2 separate regions of the Homo sapiens genome follow, and region 2 is linked to region 1. Evidence: fine-mapped expression QTL. Tissue or cell type: whole blood. Region 1 holds a variant in brackets; the other region holds the start of a gene. All regions are shown on one strand. Distances are from middle to middle.

Region 1 (8,000 bases):
ACTGAGGGCATCTGTAAAATTTTGTAATAGTAAAAACATTCAACTATACAGCACGGCATATAAGCCTATCTTTATACCTTTATCTCCTGACAACCCCACTCCTCCCAGATAGCTAGCCAAGGATTTCTGGCCACTTGCATATGCTATTCCCTCTTACTGGTATGTCTCTGCTTAAACTATAAATAACCACTCTGTGAAGTCCTCCCTGATTATTCTAGGCATGCCTTCCTCCACACTCCCAAAGTACTGCATACATAACACCTACCAGACCACTTAGTATTCTGTATTGTCATTGTTTACACTAGTTTTTGCCACACAGTGAAGTTCCTTAAAAGCAAACTATCTCTTTCCTTTTTTTAATTTTTTTATTTTTTATTATACTGGCAGTGCCTGGCTCAAGAGGTACTCAAATGTATTTTAATCATTTAAATGATTGACTGCAAGGTTTCCAGCTTTGAGATGAATAGGATAATGATGTCATCATGAACACAGAAGTAAATGCGTGTTTGGCAATAAAAGAGATGGGTTCAAAATGAAAATAATAGGCTGGGCGCAGTGGCTCATGCCTGTAATCCCAGCACTTTGGGAAGCAGAGGCAGGCGTATCACTTGAGGTCAGGAGTTTGAGACCAGCATGGCCAACATGGCAAAACCCTGTCTCTACTAAAAATACAAAAATTAGCCAGGCATGGTGGTGGGCGCCTGTAGTCCCAGCTACTTAGGAGGCTGAGGCAGGAGAATCACTTGAACCCAGAAGGCAGAGGTTGCAGTGAGCCGAGATGGCACCACTGCACTACAGCCTGGGTGACAGAGAAAGACCCTGTCCAAAGGAAAAATAAAAAAGGAAATAATATTACATTTTAGGTGAATATAACACAAGGTAGAGGAGCAGCTTAGTTGACAAGTAGAATTTGTTGGTTTGAAGTCAGTTCAGAAGAGAGTTTCATAGAGTGGAGTAGCAGCAGAATCAATGAAAGTGAATGAGACTGCAGAGAAAGAGGAAGAAAAAGAGAACAAGGACGCAAAAAAGGACTGTTTGAGAAGTGGTATGCAGGTCGTGGTGGCTCACACCTGTAATTCCAGCACTTTGAAAGACTGAAGCAGGTGGATCACTTGAGGTTAGGGGTTCGAGACCAGCCTGGCCAACATGGTGAAACCTCTCTCTGCTAAAAATACAAAAATTAGCCAAGCATGGTGGAGGGCGCCTGCAATCCCAGCTACTTGGGAGGCTGAGGCACAAGAATCTCTTGAACCCAGGAGATGGAGGTTGCCGTGGGCTAAGGTCACACCACTGCACTCCAGCCTGGGCAACAGAGCAAGAATTCATCTTAAAAAAAAAAAAAAAAAAAAAAAAAAAAAGGCTGCGCGCGGTGGCTCACGCCTGTAATCCCAGCACTTTGGGAGGCCAAGGCGGGTGGATCACGAGGTCAGGAGTTCAAGACCAGCCTGGCCAAGATGGTGAAACCCCGTCTCTACTAAAAATATAAAAATTAGCTGGTTGCGGTGGCGGGCGCCTGTAATCCCAGCTACTCCAGAGGCTGAGGCAGAGAATTGCTTGAACCTGGGAGGCAGAGGTTGCAGTGAGCCGAGATCGCCCCACTGCACTCCAGCCTGGGTGACAGAGTGAGACTCTGTCTCAAAACAAAAACAAAAACAAACAAAAAAGGTCACCCAGCCAGGAGGGAATCGGAGAGAGAGCAGAACCTCAGGTGTGAAGAGATCAATTTTCTTCCAAGATAGCTAAGGAGGGAGTAGAAAATTGTGGGATGATGGGTAGAGAAGAGGAAGGAACCTCTGAGGAATCATTTTTGTCTCAGGCAGCAAAACTATAAGCCTTAGACATCATCTGCCTCATCTCTCTCCATTCCTCAAATCCAGACTCCAATCTGCCTCCAGATCAGGTAGCCCCCAAAAAGCTGCCAATTTTCTCCCTTTGAAATAATCTTTTAGATTTACCCCCTTTCTTTAGAGTACTCACTGTGCTCATTTTTTTTTTAAGAGACAGAATCTCATTATATTGCCTAGGTTGGAGTGCAGTGGCTATTCACAGGCACAATCACAGCTAATTGCAGCCTCAAGTGATCCTCCTGCCTCGGCCTCCAGAGTAGCTAGGACTACAGGTACATGCCACTGGGCCGATTCTTAAGTCTTAATTACTATTGCAACATACCCTACATCCTAACCTTGCCTCTAATCTCCTCTACTCAAAGTCTTCCAAACAGATTTTACATCACTTCTCAGCTAAAATCTCTCAAGGGCTGCCAGTTCCCATCACATCAATACCAAATGCTTCAGTCTGAATTTCTAGGCCCCATTACCTGACTACATCCATCCTACCCAAGCAATCTCCAACAAGTATCCTCTGAAAATGCCATGCTCATTTAATTCTCCACATCCAAAGCACCTAGCCTGTCTCAACAACAACAACAAAGCATAAAACCTTTGTACACTGGGAAGAATTAGAAAATATCAGCCCAATTAAATATAAAAGTACCAGGTCAGGATTATAAATTGTAATGACAATCACTTCACTGTATGCAGAGAAAATAAGAGCACATGATGGTAAACTGAAGAGGCTACTAATTCGTGACAAGAGGCAAACAGTCCACTTAGAGGTAGATACACAAAATAACAGAAAATATGACCCTTCTTTCTCTAATTCCAGACAGGAAATCTACAACCCTAATAACTACTCTTACCCACTGCCAAGAGAATTTTCTCCTTTTTTTTTTTTTTTGACAGGATCTTGCTCTGTTGCCTAGGCTGGAATGCAGTGGCATGATCATGGCTCACTGCAGTCTCAAACTTCTGGCCTCAAGTGATCCTACTACTGCCTCAGCCTCCTGAGTAGCTGGGACTACAGGCATACCACCACAACCAACTGAGTGTAGAGACAGGATCTCACTATGTTGCCCAGTCTAGTTTCAAACTCTGGGCCCCAAGCAATCCTTTTGTCTCGGCTTCCCAACTTGCTAGAATTACAGGTGTTAGCCACCAAGCCCAGCCAAAATTACAGACAAAAAGAGACAAATAGCAATTTGCTAAGGATTTTCTAAAATTCCCAGCATAGTAACAATACCTACTATATCAATAACTTAAATCAACTGTGAACAAGTTGAATACATTAATATCACATGACTACATAGAAAAGTTATTTTTAATTACACTTTTCTCAAGCTGTATTGCTTACCTAACTTTGCATTCTAAGATTGACCGCTTTTTTTTTTTTTTTTTGAGATGGAGTCTCCCTCTGTCTCAAGGCTGGAGTGCAGTGGCACAATCTCGGCTCACTGCAACCTCCGCCTCCCGGGTTCAAGTGATTCTCCTGCCTCAACCTCCCGAGCCTGCCACCACGCCCAGCTAATTTTTGTATTTTTAGTAGAGACGGGGTTTCACCATGTCGGCCAGGATGGTTTTTTTTTTTCTTGAGAGGGAGTTTCGCTCTTGTTGCCCAGGCTAGAGTGCAATGGGGCGATCTCAGCTCACTGCAACCTCAGCCTCCCGGGTTCAAGTGATTCTCCTGCCTCAGCCTCCCAAATAGCTGAGATTACAGGCTCCTGCCACCATGCCTAGCTAATTTTTTGTATTTTTAGTAGAGACGGGGTTTTGCCATGTTGGCCAGGCTGGTCTTGAAATCCTCATCTCAGGTGATCCACCCGCCTCAGCCTCCCAAAGTGCTGGGATTACAGGCGTGAGCCACCATGCCCACCCTGACCTCACTTTTTAAGTCCTCAGTCTGAGGCCGGGCTCCGTGGCTCACACCTGTAATCCCAGCACTTTGGGAGGCTGAGGCGGGTGGATCACCTGAGGTCAGGAGTTCGAGACCAGCTGGGCCAACATGGTAAAACCCCATCTCTACTAAAAATACAAAAATTAGCTGGGGTGGTGGTGCGCACCTGTAATCCCAGCTACTCAGAAGGCTGAGGCAGGAGAACTGCTTGAACCCAGAAGGCGGAGATTGCAGTGAGCCGAGATCATGCCATTGCACTCCAGCCTGGGCAACAAGAGTGAAACTTCGTCTCAAAAAAAAAAATGTCTTCAGTTTAAAAATATCAAAGGCAAAAATAAAGGCAATAGATTTCAATCACAACTTTGAACCAAATTCCTAAAATAATAAATTAGGGGATGGGTACGGTGGCTCACGCCTGTAATCCCAGCACTTTGGGAGGCCAAGGTGGGCGGATCACCTGAGGTCAGGAGTTCAAGACCAGCCTGGCCCACATGGTGAAACCTCGTCTCTAATAAAAATACAAAAAGTAGTCAGGCATGGTGGTGCACACCTGTAGTCCCAGCTACTCGGGAGGCTGAGGTGGGAGAATCGCTTGAACCCAGGAGGAGGTGGTTGAAGTGAGCTGAGATCGCGCCACTACACTCCAGCCTGGGTGACAGCATGACTGTGTCTCAAAAAAATAAATAAACTACATACTTGCTTCTTCAAGGTGATAAAGTCTTTGAGCAATTTCAATTTCTCCCTGAAAAAAAAACTTCTACATTTATACATTTGCTAACTCCCATTTTAGACATGTAACCTACTATCTAAAGGCTCCAATATTTTCAGTTTTTTGTTTGTTTGTTTGTTTGTTTTTTT[G/T]TTGTTTTTTTTTTTGAGACAGAGTTTCACTCTTATTTCCCAGTATGGAGTGCAATGGCGCAATCTTGGCTCACTGCAACCTCTGCCTCCTGGGTTCAAGCGATTCTCCTGCCTCAGCCTCTCGAGTAGCTGGGATTACAGTTGCCCACCATCACGCCCGGCTAATTTTTGTAGAGACGGAGTTTCACCATGTTGGCCAGACTGGTCTCAAACTCCTGACCTCAGGTGATCTGTCCACCTCAGCCTCCCAAAGTGCTGGGACTACAGGTGTGAGCCACCACACTCAGCCTTCATTTTTTTTTTAATAGAACCAATACTCCACTAACATCTCTTTGACGAGAAACAGGTTTACAATTCTATTTGTATGCTTCTAGAGAAACATCTATCTCCATTCTCAGATTTAAATTTATGTGCAAAAACAAAGACACGATATATATATAAAATAAATTTCAACGTGAACCCAAGAAAAAGGATTTGTCTGAGCTGCCAATAGGTTTTCAAAACAGCCTACCCACCCTAATGTGTAGGACAATTCAGACTCAAGATAACCACTAAAGCAAATTTTTTTAAATCTGCAATTGCCAAGAAACCAAGGAGTACCAAGGCATAATTAAGATACAAATCAACAGAAACAAAAGTGACACACCCACATTCTCCCTCTGTAACTTTAAAGAACAGCAGGGATATAAGGTAAAGCGAATGTTTAATGAACTCAGAATAACAACATACCATAAAAGTTTTTCTTATAAAAACTGAATGTGGTATGAGACATTTGTTGGCCAAAAAAAATTCTCTTTGCTAACATTACCGGCGGTGACCAAACAATGTGTTTGGGCAGAAACAAAATCAATATCAAATATTAATATTTAAAGCTGAAGGAATCTTATAGCAATCAAGAACTTCTGGAATTTAGACGCAATAAAATTGAGGCTAAGAGAAGTGAACTGATCATTTAGCTAGAAAGTCAAGAAATTCTTCATAAGCTCAAATAAAAACAAATGTTATCATTTATCACCCTCTAACAATACTTGACAGCATTACTGAAAACAACAACTCAAATAAGATACTCTCCATTTCTATACACACGGAATATATACATATCACACATACACATACACACTTCAAAATCTGAAACTACTGTAGTTCTAGCTGATGCAGGAGGATCGAATGAGCCCAGGAGTCCCGACGCCAGCCTGGGCAACATGACAAGGCCAGTCTCTAAACAATAAATAAATATAAAACTTTGTCTTAGTTAGGGTTCTGTTAAAATAAAATAAAATAAAACAAAACAAAACTAGAAAAACTTCAAGAGCTAATGGTGATACAAAAATTAGCCGGGCGTGGTGATGGGTACCAGTAATCCCAGCTACTCGGGAGGGTGAGGCAGGAGAATTGCTTGAACCCAAGAGGCAGAGGTTGCAGTGATCAACCACTGCACTCCAGCCTGGCAACAGAGTGAGACTCCACCTCAAAAAAAAAAAAAAGAGCTAATGGTGGCAGTTATCAAAAGCACAGGATGCTATACCTTCAAAACAGGTAGTTCAGAAAAACTAGCCTAATTTAGATTTTGACAATGTCCAAGAAAACTTCATCTTAGCCACTTTAATCTGTGTTCAAAATGCCCTTCAACCTGAAGTAAGAGTCAAGTCATCAAGTAAAAAAATAATCTGCCACATATAGCAACAGGACTCCAAGTACTAAATTGGTTCACCTGCACTCATGGTGCTGGCAGGCCAAAACCCATCTTTTTTTTTTTTTTTTAATCATATATGTATACCTCCAACTTGAGAAATTAAACCTGAACTCAATCAAATGCCTTTAAAAGCATTAGCCTACTCTCAATGAAGAGTTATTTGGAAAAAGCTTAAAACAACCAAATTCATACAACAGAGATAAATTTAAAAATCAAAGTAAAATTTTGCCCAAAGCTTATGATTAGCAATAGGATTTCAGCTGTGAACTGATAAGCAACCAAAAACAAATTTGTTACAAGTTTCCCTTTAAGTGGCCTGTATATATACATATATGTATATATTTAAGTTGTACCAAAAACTGCTTACAAATGGCAATTCCTGTGAAGTAGATGATGATGAAGTTCCAGGTAATTCTAGCATGTTTCCTAATGTACTGGTACTGGAATCTGGATCATCCTGAAAAGATAAATTTATTGAGTTTAATTGCTCTTCTATTGTAATGTTTGTGTCTCCTAGTGAAAAGGGGGCTGGGAGAAGGGCTGCTTTTTCATTGCTGCCGTCCACTTCATTTCTTTGCTTATTTTTCTGTGTTTCAGTCTGAGGAGCTAATGGCAAGAATGGCGATTTGACTGCACCGTGTCTACTCTCTGGTGTGCTGTCTTGTTCACTTCCCATGGCCACTTTTACACCATTCTCTGATTTAGTCTCATAATTGCAGGTGGCATTGGTCTGAGTTTCCTCAAAGATCTCCTCTATACTCTCATCCTCTGTGACTGGCTGTTCTGGGTCCATTTCAGAATCTACATCTGCATCGTCCACACAAGTAAAATTCTCAAAGTGCAGAAAGCCATTCTTGATAGTCTTTGTTACTTTTACCTGGAGTTCAGGGGAGTTATTACAAGAGGGTTCCTGTTTCATAGCAAGTGCTGTAGGACCACCAGGACTCAAGGAAGTGCAAACAATTGGCGTCTGAGCTCTTGAATCACTTTTTTCAGGGTCTTGAAAGGATTCTGATCCATCAGCAGACCCATTTAAATACTCTACATTGATCATGGAGGCCAAATCCTGTAGTCTCCGCAGTGGAATGTAACAAGATGGAGAATCTTGTCCATAAGCATTTTGGGATGTTCCACTGACAGTCGATAACTGCATAGTACACCCATTAAGTGGCTCAGAAAAATTGGATTGACCATTACCGAAAGGGCTGTCCTTGTCTTCAGGGGCATCTAAATTCACTGGATTGGAAAAGGGCAGCAGACAATTTCTTCTGGGTAGTTCACAGGTCTGATCCATCCTGGGCCGGCATCAACCTGGAATCCAAAAGCACAGCAATTAATCTGAGTTAATAGGCCATCTGACTCGACTCTTTAAAATGGCAGCCACTTCAAGGCCTAGTGGCCTCTATGCCTTTCTGCTGCACTTCCATGGGCAGAAAAAGTTCCCCCGACTGGAGATGAAAAAATGGCCTCGATGAGCCTCTGAAAACTCCATTTTCCCGAAGCTGGGCCGATCCTGCTACATAGAAACAGCCCGTCTCTTTTTCCTCCTCTGTAGACTGGTGGACACTTGGGATGAACTAAAATTAAAACCCCTCTGCCCGTCAAAATTCCCAATTCTCAAACAGGACTAGTCCTCCCCCTCCCTCGCCAGGGGTCGAGCAGCTGGATCTCTCAAAAGCAAAAGGCTGCGGGGTCCGAGGGGGGCTCCTGGACCCTGCAC
Region 2 (8,103 bases), 170 kb before region 1:
GGCCAAGCCCCTGTTCGGCATTGGTTTGCTCTGTCGCTGAGGTCGTAGTCTGCAGGAAGAGGCTGACCCTGAGAGATGCAGGGCCCACTGCTACTTGGGAGAATGCGCTGAAGGAGGGAGGCCTGGGAACCTCCTGGAGCAAGTGACATTGAGCAGAGATGGCAGAGGCAGGGAGGTGGGCAAGGCCATGGCATGTCCCCTGCCCAGCTCAAACTTTGTCCTGAAGGCCATGGGAGCGTGGGCCTTCAGCGGGGGCATGAGGCCTTCAGTGGGGGCGTGACCTGGTTAGCTCTGTGACTGGGGAGTGCTGCTCTCTGGGAGAGGGGAGGCTGCGGGCAGCCCAGGGAGGAGGCTGGGCAGGGTTCCAGGGTCGGAGCCAGGCTCCCGACTCCCCCGATGACTCTTCCTTGCAGGGGAGAAGGGGAAAGGGATCTGGGGAACGCAGGGCCATCTCCTCCTGCACCATGGAGTGTCCATGGAGTGGAGGAGGACGGTGAGCCCAGGATTGGCTCCCCTCTTCAAGGGGTCCTAACTGGGACAAAGGCCTGGGGCGGGGGGGTCTCCCTTCTCCCCTTCCACTCAGGGCACAGATGCAGACTCTGTCCTTGGAGCCCAGAGGACCATAGACCCGGGTAGAGTCTGCACTGCAAGTACAGGCAGCAGAACCCCAGTTACAGTGGGCTGGTGGAGGCAGGAGGTCACAGGGCGAAGCGCAGGACCCTGCGGACTCCAGGGCAGAGGATCTGGGCTGGTCACTGCTGGGGGGGCACTGCAGCTCCTCTGTCCAGTCCTGTGCCTAGAGGCCACTAGCTCTAGCATTTTCTCACAGGGGCCCAGGGGACATCCAAGGGCTTGGGGCAGGATCCCTGCTGGTCCAGGCTGGATCCCCCCATGCCCCGTCCCATCCTGTTCCTGGGGAGGTATTGTTCCTGTCTGGCCTGGCCGGTGGCCTTGACCCCAGCCCACATGCTGTCCCTGGCTCAAAACCGCTCTGCAGCTCCTAGGATGAAGTCCAAACTCCTTGACATGAGCCCTCCAGCCCCTCTGCAGCCCCACCCCGACTCCCACCACCTCCTGGCCATGTCTTCAGCTCACATATGCTTCCTTCTTTCCCTTTGCTGAAAATTCTCCTCCTTCAGAACCTCCCCACCCCTATCCCACCCAGACTGGAGGCCAGGCCACCTAGGGCCCAGACATCTGAGTAGGTTCGTGTCTGCACTGCATGGTGCTGACTTTAGTGAAATAAAATTGGAAATTCATTCACAACCCTTGCGGCTCCTTCCTTCAGAGATGGCTGATTGCAGGGGGGAGTTTGGGGGAACCCATCAGCATGTTCTGGGCCCTGCAGCCTCTCCAGTGTCAGCCTGCACCAGGCTATTTGCTCTCTGTAAGCCACACCGCCCCTGCCATGCTCCTTTCAGCCCCAGGGCCTTTGCATGTGCTGTTCCTTTGTCTAGAATTCTTTCATCTCTCCTATACTTAGATAACACCTCTTCATCCATTTCCCCAGTAAAGCCTTCTCTGGCCTCACCAATTAGGTCAAATGTTCCTTAGAATGTGTTGTGGGGCATGGTCTCTCCCTGTGAGGACCTGTCCAGCTGGACCTCCGCCTTCCTGCGACTGTATTGGTGTCTTTCCCTCTCAAGCCTATGAGCTCTGCAAGGGCAGGGACCCTGTATGATTTTGCCTATCGTATGTCCTCCAGCCCCCAGCACAGCGCCTGGTGTCCAGTGAGAGCTCAGCAAATACTTTGTGAGTTAAGGACAGGCGGCTGGGTAGATGGATCGTCTGCCTAGACAGGGCAGTTATTCCGCTGTGAGCAACTCTTAGAGAAACTTCATTTTTTTTCGGCGCCTGGCCGAAACTTCAAGATGTTTCCCGGCCAGGAACGGTGGCTCACACCTGTAATCCCAGCACTTTGGGAGGCTGAGGTGGGTGGATCACCTGAGGTCAGGAGTTCGAGACCAGCCTGGCCAACACGGTGAAACCCCGTCTCTACTAAAAATACAAAAATTAGCTGGGTGTGGTGGTGGGCGCTTGTAGTCTCAGCTACTTGGGAGGCTGAGGCAGGAGAATTGCTTGAACCCGGGAGGCGGAGGTTGCAGTGAGTCGAGACTGAGCCATTGCGCTTCAGCCTGGGCAACAGAGCAAGACTCAAAAAAAAAAAAAAGATTTTTCCCAAGGAACTGAGGCCTGACTGACATGTGCTTGTGTTTACCAGGACTGTCTCTTTACAGAGCATCTATCCCTCCCACCTTCCCTCCCCTCTCTATTTTGGGATTACTGGAGTCACAGACTCAGCCCGTGGCTGGCAGCAATGCTCCACCCTGCTACAGCTGCGTTCATCTTCCTGTCCCCAGATGTGGCCCCACCTGCTGGTGCTGAGGCTAGAAGTCATCACAGCCACTCCTTCGGCCGGCTAGGAGAGTCAGGTGCAAGAAGGGTTTATGGACTCTGAGTAAGGCAAGCAGGGGCTGCCTGGGAGGCAAACGCCGCGGTCTGGTTGCACTGGCCTTTGAGATGGGCGGCTCCTTCATGCCATGGGCACCGCAGAGGCATTGGCTCTGATCCTTCAACGCTGTCGCAGGGCTCCTGAGGCTTAGAGACGGAGGTCACCTCCTGAGTCATACACAGCTGAGACATCAGTGACAGGAGAGGACCCCAACTGCGTGGATACCAGAGCCCAAGGCCCCGGAAAAGGCCATTTCGCGTGCCTCCAGGGTATGGCCTGCCTGAGGAAGCTGTTACCCCACTGACGTTTTCGTAGCAACAACAGCTTCCTCACAGAAGAGGAGGGGGGCCGAGATATTATTCCCATTCGACACAGTAGGAAGCTGGGGCCCACGGGGGCCTTCGGGGGCAGATGGCAGGCAGGCTTGGGGACAGACCCCGGAGGGCAGGAGCCGGGTCCGCCGCCCCTCCGCCGGCGCCTGCGCATTGAGGCCCAGCTCCCCTCTCAACCCCGCCCCATCGCTTGGGTTTTCAAATTTGAAACCTGCTTCTTTTCCCGCCCGAACGTGTGGATCAGCGGCGGGAGAGGGCGGGGCAGAGCGCCAGCCAATAGGGCATCAGAGGCTCCCCGACCCCGCCCCGAGGATGACAACAGCGATCCTTGAGAAGCCATGTGCGAATGGGCGAGCGGCGGCCGGAGGCCCCGCCCCCGCGGCACCCACGTGCAGCGGCTGGGCCCGGCGCTTTCAGGGGACCACCAGGCCCCCAGAGCGCCGTGCTATGTTGGGGGCTAGTCACTAGCACGGGGCTGGAAGCTGAGATCAAAGACGCCAATGAGCCGGCGTGGGTGGATGAGTGAGGCGGGCAAGAAGCAGCACCGGTTAGCCTGAGGGTTCGCTCCAGGGCCAGGCCTGGAGCCAGCGCCCTTACCTGCCCCTGGAAAGTCTGAGACCACTCGGGGCGGGGCGGCTGCCGGAGGGTGGGCTGCGGCTCCGTGGCGGGTTCCAGAGGGGCGGAGCCAAGGGCTGGGCGTTCCCGCGGGCGGGGCGTCCCGGGGGCGGGGCGGGCCCCTGTGTTTGTTGCACCGTGTCAGTTACTTTGTAACAAAAGTGCTGCAGCCGCTTGCTCCGGCCGGCACCCTAGGCCGGCCCGCCGCCAGCTGTCGCCGACATGGAACCCTTGGCCAGCAACATCCAGGTCCTGCTGCAGGCGGCCGAGTTCCTGGAGCGCCGTGAGAGAGGTGAGGAAGGACCCTTGGCTGAATTCCGGGCGGCGACCTCGCTGACACGGGCCTGGACTGGACCTGGCTCCCAGCTTGAAGGATGCACCGCCCTAGGACAGTAATCCCGGGGCGCCTCGCCCTCAACTCGAGAGGAGTCCCGGGGCGGTAGAGCAGGGACGGGTGGGGGAAATGGTCCTGGCGCCAAAAGCCTTTCCTTGACCGTGCTGTGCCTGGGGCTGCCGCTGGGACCAGGTCCAGCCCCAGCCTGACGCGGGCGGGGACTCTCTCTGGCAGAGGCCGAGCATGGTTATGCGTCCCTGTGCCCGCATCGCAGTCCAGGCCCCATCCACAGGAGGAAGAAGCGACCCCCCCAGGCTCCTGGCGCGCAGGACAGCGGGCGGTGAGGAGGCCGGGGGCGGCGGGAGTGGGGGTGGGGGTGGGCGCCGCCCCTGGTCGGGCCCTCCTCTGCCCACTTGTTGCTTGCATCTTTTGGGCCAGGTGTCCCGCTCCAGGAAGCGTTCAGACCCCTCCTGCCATCTCCCCACTCTCCAAACACACTCACACCTTTCTATTCATTCAAGGACTATTTCTTGAGCACCTCTAGATGTGCCGGGAACTGCCAACAGCAGTTGGGGTCCCGCTTCCACTCGCACTCCCGCACCCCACACATCAGGCCACTCACCTCCCCCGCTGGCTTCCTCCTCTTCTCTCCTCTCCCCAGCCCTTTGCATATGCTGTTCCCTCCTATTTGAATGCCCCTCCCTCCAGTACCGGCTTGGGAAACATCTGTTTCCGCAGTTAGCTGTCACCTCTGGGAGGTCCTTTCTGGCCAGCTGGCAGGCGCCCTTGTTAGGGCCCTCATACCCACCTGGGCAGGCTTCTGTTAAGCATTTGGCTCCGTGTGTCTTTGACTCCCCTCGCCCTGCCAGGGGACTCTGGTGTCTGAGGCCAGCATGAGCTCTCCACAGGGGACTTGTTTGGGGCAGACATCTGTAGTGGCTCTTGAGCCACTGGGGGCCCTGGGATTGGGGCATGGGCAGTAGCTGATTCCCCTTCACCTCATCCTCTCTGGCATTGGCAGGTCAGTGCACAATGAACTGGAGAAGCGCAGGTGAGTCCCAGTCCTGCCCTGACAGCGCCAGCCCCCAGGGGCCACTGCCCTCTGGCCTTCCCTCCCCTGCCATTCCTGTGGCCGGCAAGGTGGGGCTGGCACTGCCCTCCAGACCTCTTCCCCACAGGAGGGCCCAGTTGAAGCGGTGCCTGGAGCGGCTGAAGCAGCAGATGCCCCTGGGGGCCGACTGTGCCCGGTACACCACGCTGAGCCTGCTGCGCCGTGCCAGGATGCACATCCAGGTGAGGCCCCCCACTGCGCCCGGACTGGCTTGCCCTGGTGTATGGAGGGCTGTGCTATGGAGGGGCTGGTGGGACTGGGGAACGAGACCTGAGGTCAGAGCTCAAGAACTGTGTGACTTAGGACAGCTCTCTGAGCTTTTACTTTCCAGATCCATTAAATGGGAAGAAAAGCAGACAATAACTCAGAGGGTTGTTGAGGCTTAAATGAGTTCACTCTATAAATGTTCACTGTTGCTGTTACAGCTGTTATCACTTAGATCACAGCTGTGAGACCTTGGGCAGGTTACTTAGCCTGTCTGGACTAACCTTCCCTCCTGTTTGAGGGGAGGGGATGGCTGTTGAATTCTGTGATGGGATGTATGTGGGGGTCCTTGGGACTGTAGAGGGTTGGTCCTTGCTCTCCCCCTCTCACCTTCAAGGCCTCCTGTTATGGGCAGTCTATCCTGGTGCCACCTGGGAGGCAGCTCCAGGGACAGGAGGGGAAAGGACTGAGAAGACGCCAGTCACTGGTCCTCCCAGGGCTCCTGCTGCTGCTGGGGCTGAGCTCAGTGCCCCCTGGTGGACAGGAGTGGATGTGCTGAATAAAGGCCCAGGTGGCCCTGGCCATGTCAGAAGTGGCCTTGGAAACCACAGGACTTTTCCTGCCCTCTAGAGGAATACATGAAGGCACAGCTAGGCTGAGGGCCAACAAGTTGCACAGCTGATGGGCGGCAGATTCAGGACCCATGCCCAGTTCCCTGGCTTGCGTTATCTCCTCTGACAAGTGTTTACTGAGCACTGGTTCTGCTAGGCCCTATTCTAGGCACTGGGGGCTGTGGCACACAAAGACCTATGCGCTGTTAGTAAATAAACCACAGCTGCGGGAACAGCTGCACTGCCGCCCGGCGTCTGTTATTACCATCATTGTGGCTGAGTAACACTCTGGTTGGGTAGTGGCCCAGTTTCTCACACGGAGCTTGCCTGGCCTGGTTCTCGGATGGATGATGTGTGCCCCTCAGGGGCTGGCTGGCCTGTGGGCAGGACCTGGGCAGTGCTCCTTCTCTGGGGCTCCATCACCCCTCTCCTGGATTAATTCACCGGCCTCCTCCCAGCCTTCCTGTTACCTGTTTTGCCTCCACCAGGCTGTCTTCTACTTTGCTCTAGAATGATCTCTGCAGCACACCTATCTACCCAGGCCCATCTCCTGCTGAAAACCCACCAGTGGCCCCTGACAGGACAAAGCCTCTGCTCCCCTTCCTTCCTGTGAAACTCAAGGCCCTTCATAACCCAGGACTTGCCAGTAGGCTGCTCTTTTGGCCTCATCTCTCCCTGTGCCCCACAGAAGCTGAATGCTCTGTGCTCTTCCCAGGCTCCCTCTGCTGTGTCTTGACGTTTCTTCCTCCCTGTGTTTGCCTCGGCAGCTCTTATCTTTCTACGCCCAGTCCAAACGCCTCCATGGCCCAGTTCTCCCCTTCTTGTTGAATGACCGAATGTAAGCTTCTGCCCACTGAGGGCTCCGCCTGGGAGAGCCCTTGGCCTTCCAGTCCTTGGAACTTCAGGGCTGGCAGAGCTTGGCGGGAGGTAGGGGTATGGGAGGGAGGGTGCTAACGCCTTCACGCTCTCGCTCTTGTAGGGATCGTGACCAGGAGCTACAGACTGGTAGCCTTTGTTTGTTCTCTAGTTTTCTAAAAATTTAAATTAGCTGTCAATCCCTCAAAAGACATTTGACATGAAAAATCTGACTTTCCAGCTAGCTTCTCGTAAAGAAATGGGGGGCCGGGCGCGGTGGCTCACACCTATAATCTCAGCACTTTAGGAGGCTGAGGCAGGCGGATTACCTGAGGTCAGGAGTTTGAGACCAGCCTGACCAATATGGTGAAACCCCGTCTCCACTAAAAATACAAAAATTAGCTGGGCATGGTGGCGGGCCCCTGTAGTCCCAGCTACTTGTGAGGCCGAGACTAGGGAATTGCTTGAACTTAAGAGGTGGAGGTTGTGGTGAGCCGAGATTGTGCCACTGCACTCCAGCCTGGGCGACAGAGCGAGACTCTGTTTCAAAAAAAAAAAACAAAAAACAAAAGAAACGGGGAGACCTGGTAACACCGGGCCTGTTTCCCATGACAGCACATGCCTGGCTCCTGAGCCAGAGTGTACACGCAGCAGTGCACCCTGCTCCCAGTTCCCACCCCTGGACGCCACAGCACTCCAGTCCTTTATCCTTGACTAGGCCCCAAATGCCTTTGAGATTGTGGTGCCCCCCCACCCCCAATCTAGGCAGCACCCTGACAGGACGTGTGCATGGCCGGAAAGGGGCTGGCTTTCTGGAGGATGTGGGTGCAACCCTCTGGGGCCTGGATTTAGTCGCCACCTGCCCGGAGTGGGCATTGGCCCTGTGGCCGTGGCCCGGTACTGAGTGGTGCTGGGGTGCAGCCCAAGCCCCCACGCCGCTGACCCCAGCCCCTTGCTCCTTTGGGATCCGCAGAAGCTGGAGGATCAGGAGCAGCGGGCCCGACAGCTCAAGGAGAGGCTGCGCAGCAAGCAGCAGAGCCTGCAGCGGCAGCTGGAGCAGCTCCGGGGGCTGGCAGGGGCGGCCGAGCGGGAGCGGCTGCGGGCGGACAGTCTGGACTCCTCAGGCCTCTCCTCTGAGCGCTCAGACTCAGACCAAGGTGAGTGCCCCGAGGCTGAGGGGTTGTGTGGCCCTCGGGGCGAGCCAGGTCTTCTGACCGGACCCCTCCCCGCGCAGAGGAGCTGGAGGTGGATGTGGAGAGCCTGGTGTTTGGGGGTGAGGCCGAGCTGCTGCGGGGCTTCGTCGCCGGCCAGGAGCACAGCTACTCGCACGGCGGCGGCGCCTGGCTATGATGTTCCTCACCCAGGGCGGGCCTCTGCCCTCTACTCGTGCCAGGCCCACTTGCCAGGCAGGAGCCCTCCCCAAGCCTTCAGGGCTGCTCGGAGTCACCTGTTGGAATGGACTAAAAGGACCCTTGTGTGGGAACAGGTGCTCCCCAAACACCCTGCTGCTGGCTGCCAGGCAGGCCCTCTGGAAGGGAAGGGGCAGGACTCATCAGGACCTCCCTGGACCCCTGCAGGGCAGGCAGCTT

What was found. PIP is the estimated chance that this variant, and not a neighbour inherited with it, causes the effect.
Region 2: it holds the start of MXD3, and the variant in region 1 is fine-mapped to the expression of MXD3 in whole blood (TOPMed, PIP above 0.99).

The regions. Positions count from the first base shown.
Region 1 is chr5:177,134,678-177,142,677 of GRCh38, reverse strand. NSD1 (nuclear receptor binding SET domain protein 1) reads right to left here. Exons shown (of 23, transcript NM_022455.5): 2 at 6,648-7,591. The coding sequence starts at 7,574. Among named protein-coding and RNA genes, the nearest start is that of NSD1, 4.9 kb to the right of the region's middle. RefSeq lists an enhancer at 7,703-8,000. The variant G/T (reference allele first, on the strand shown) is at 4,588.
Region 2 is chr5:177,307,349-177,315,451 of GRCh38, reverse strand. It overlaps MXD3 (MAX dimerization protein 3), which reads left to right and starts at 3,554. Exons shown (of 6, transcript NM_031300.4): 1 at 3,554-3,691; 2 at 3,968-4,073; 3 at 4,755-4,784; 4 at 4,912-5,026; 5 at 7,488-7,671; 6 at 7,749-8,103. The coding sequence starts at 3,622. The coding sequence ends at 7,864. RefSeq lists enhancers at 2,420-2,479, 4,130-4,329, 4,587-5,453, 5,700-5,749, 5,820-5,889 and 1 more and silencers at 2,700-3,269, 3,400-3,579.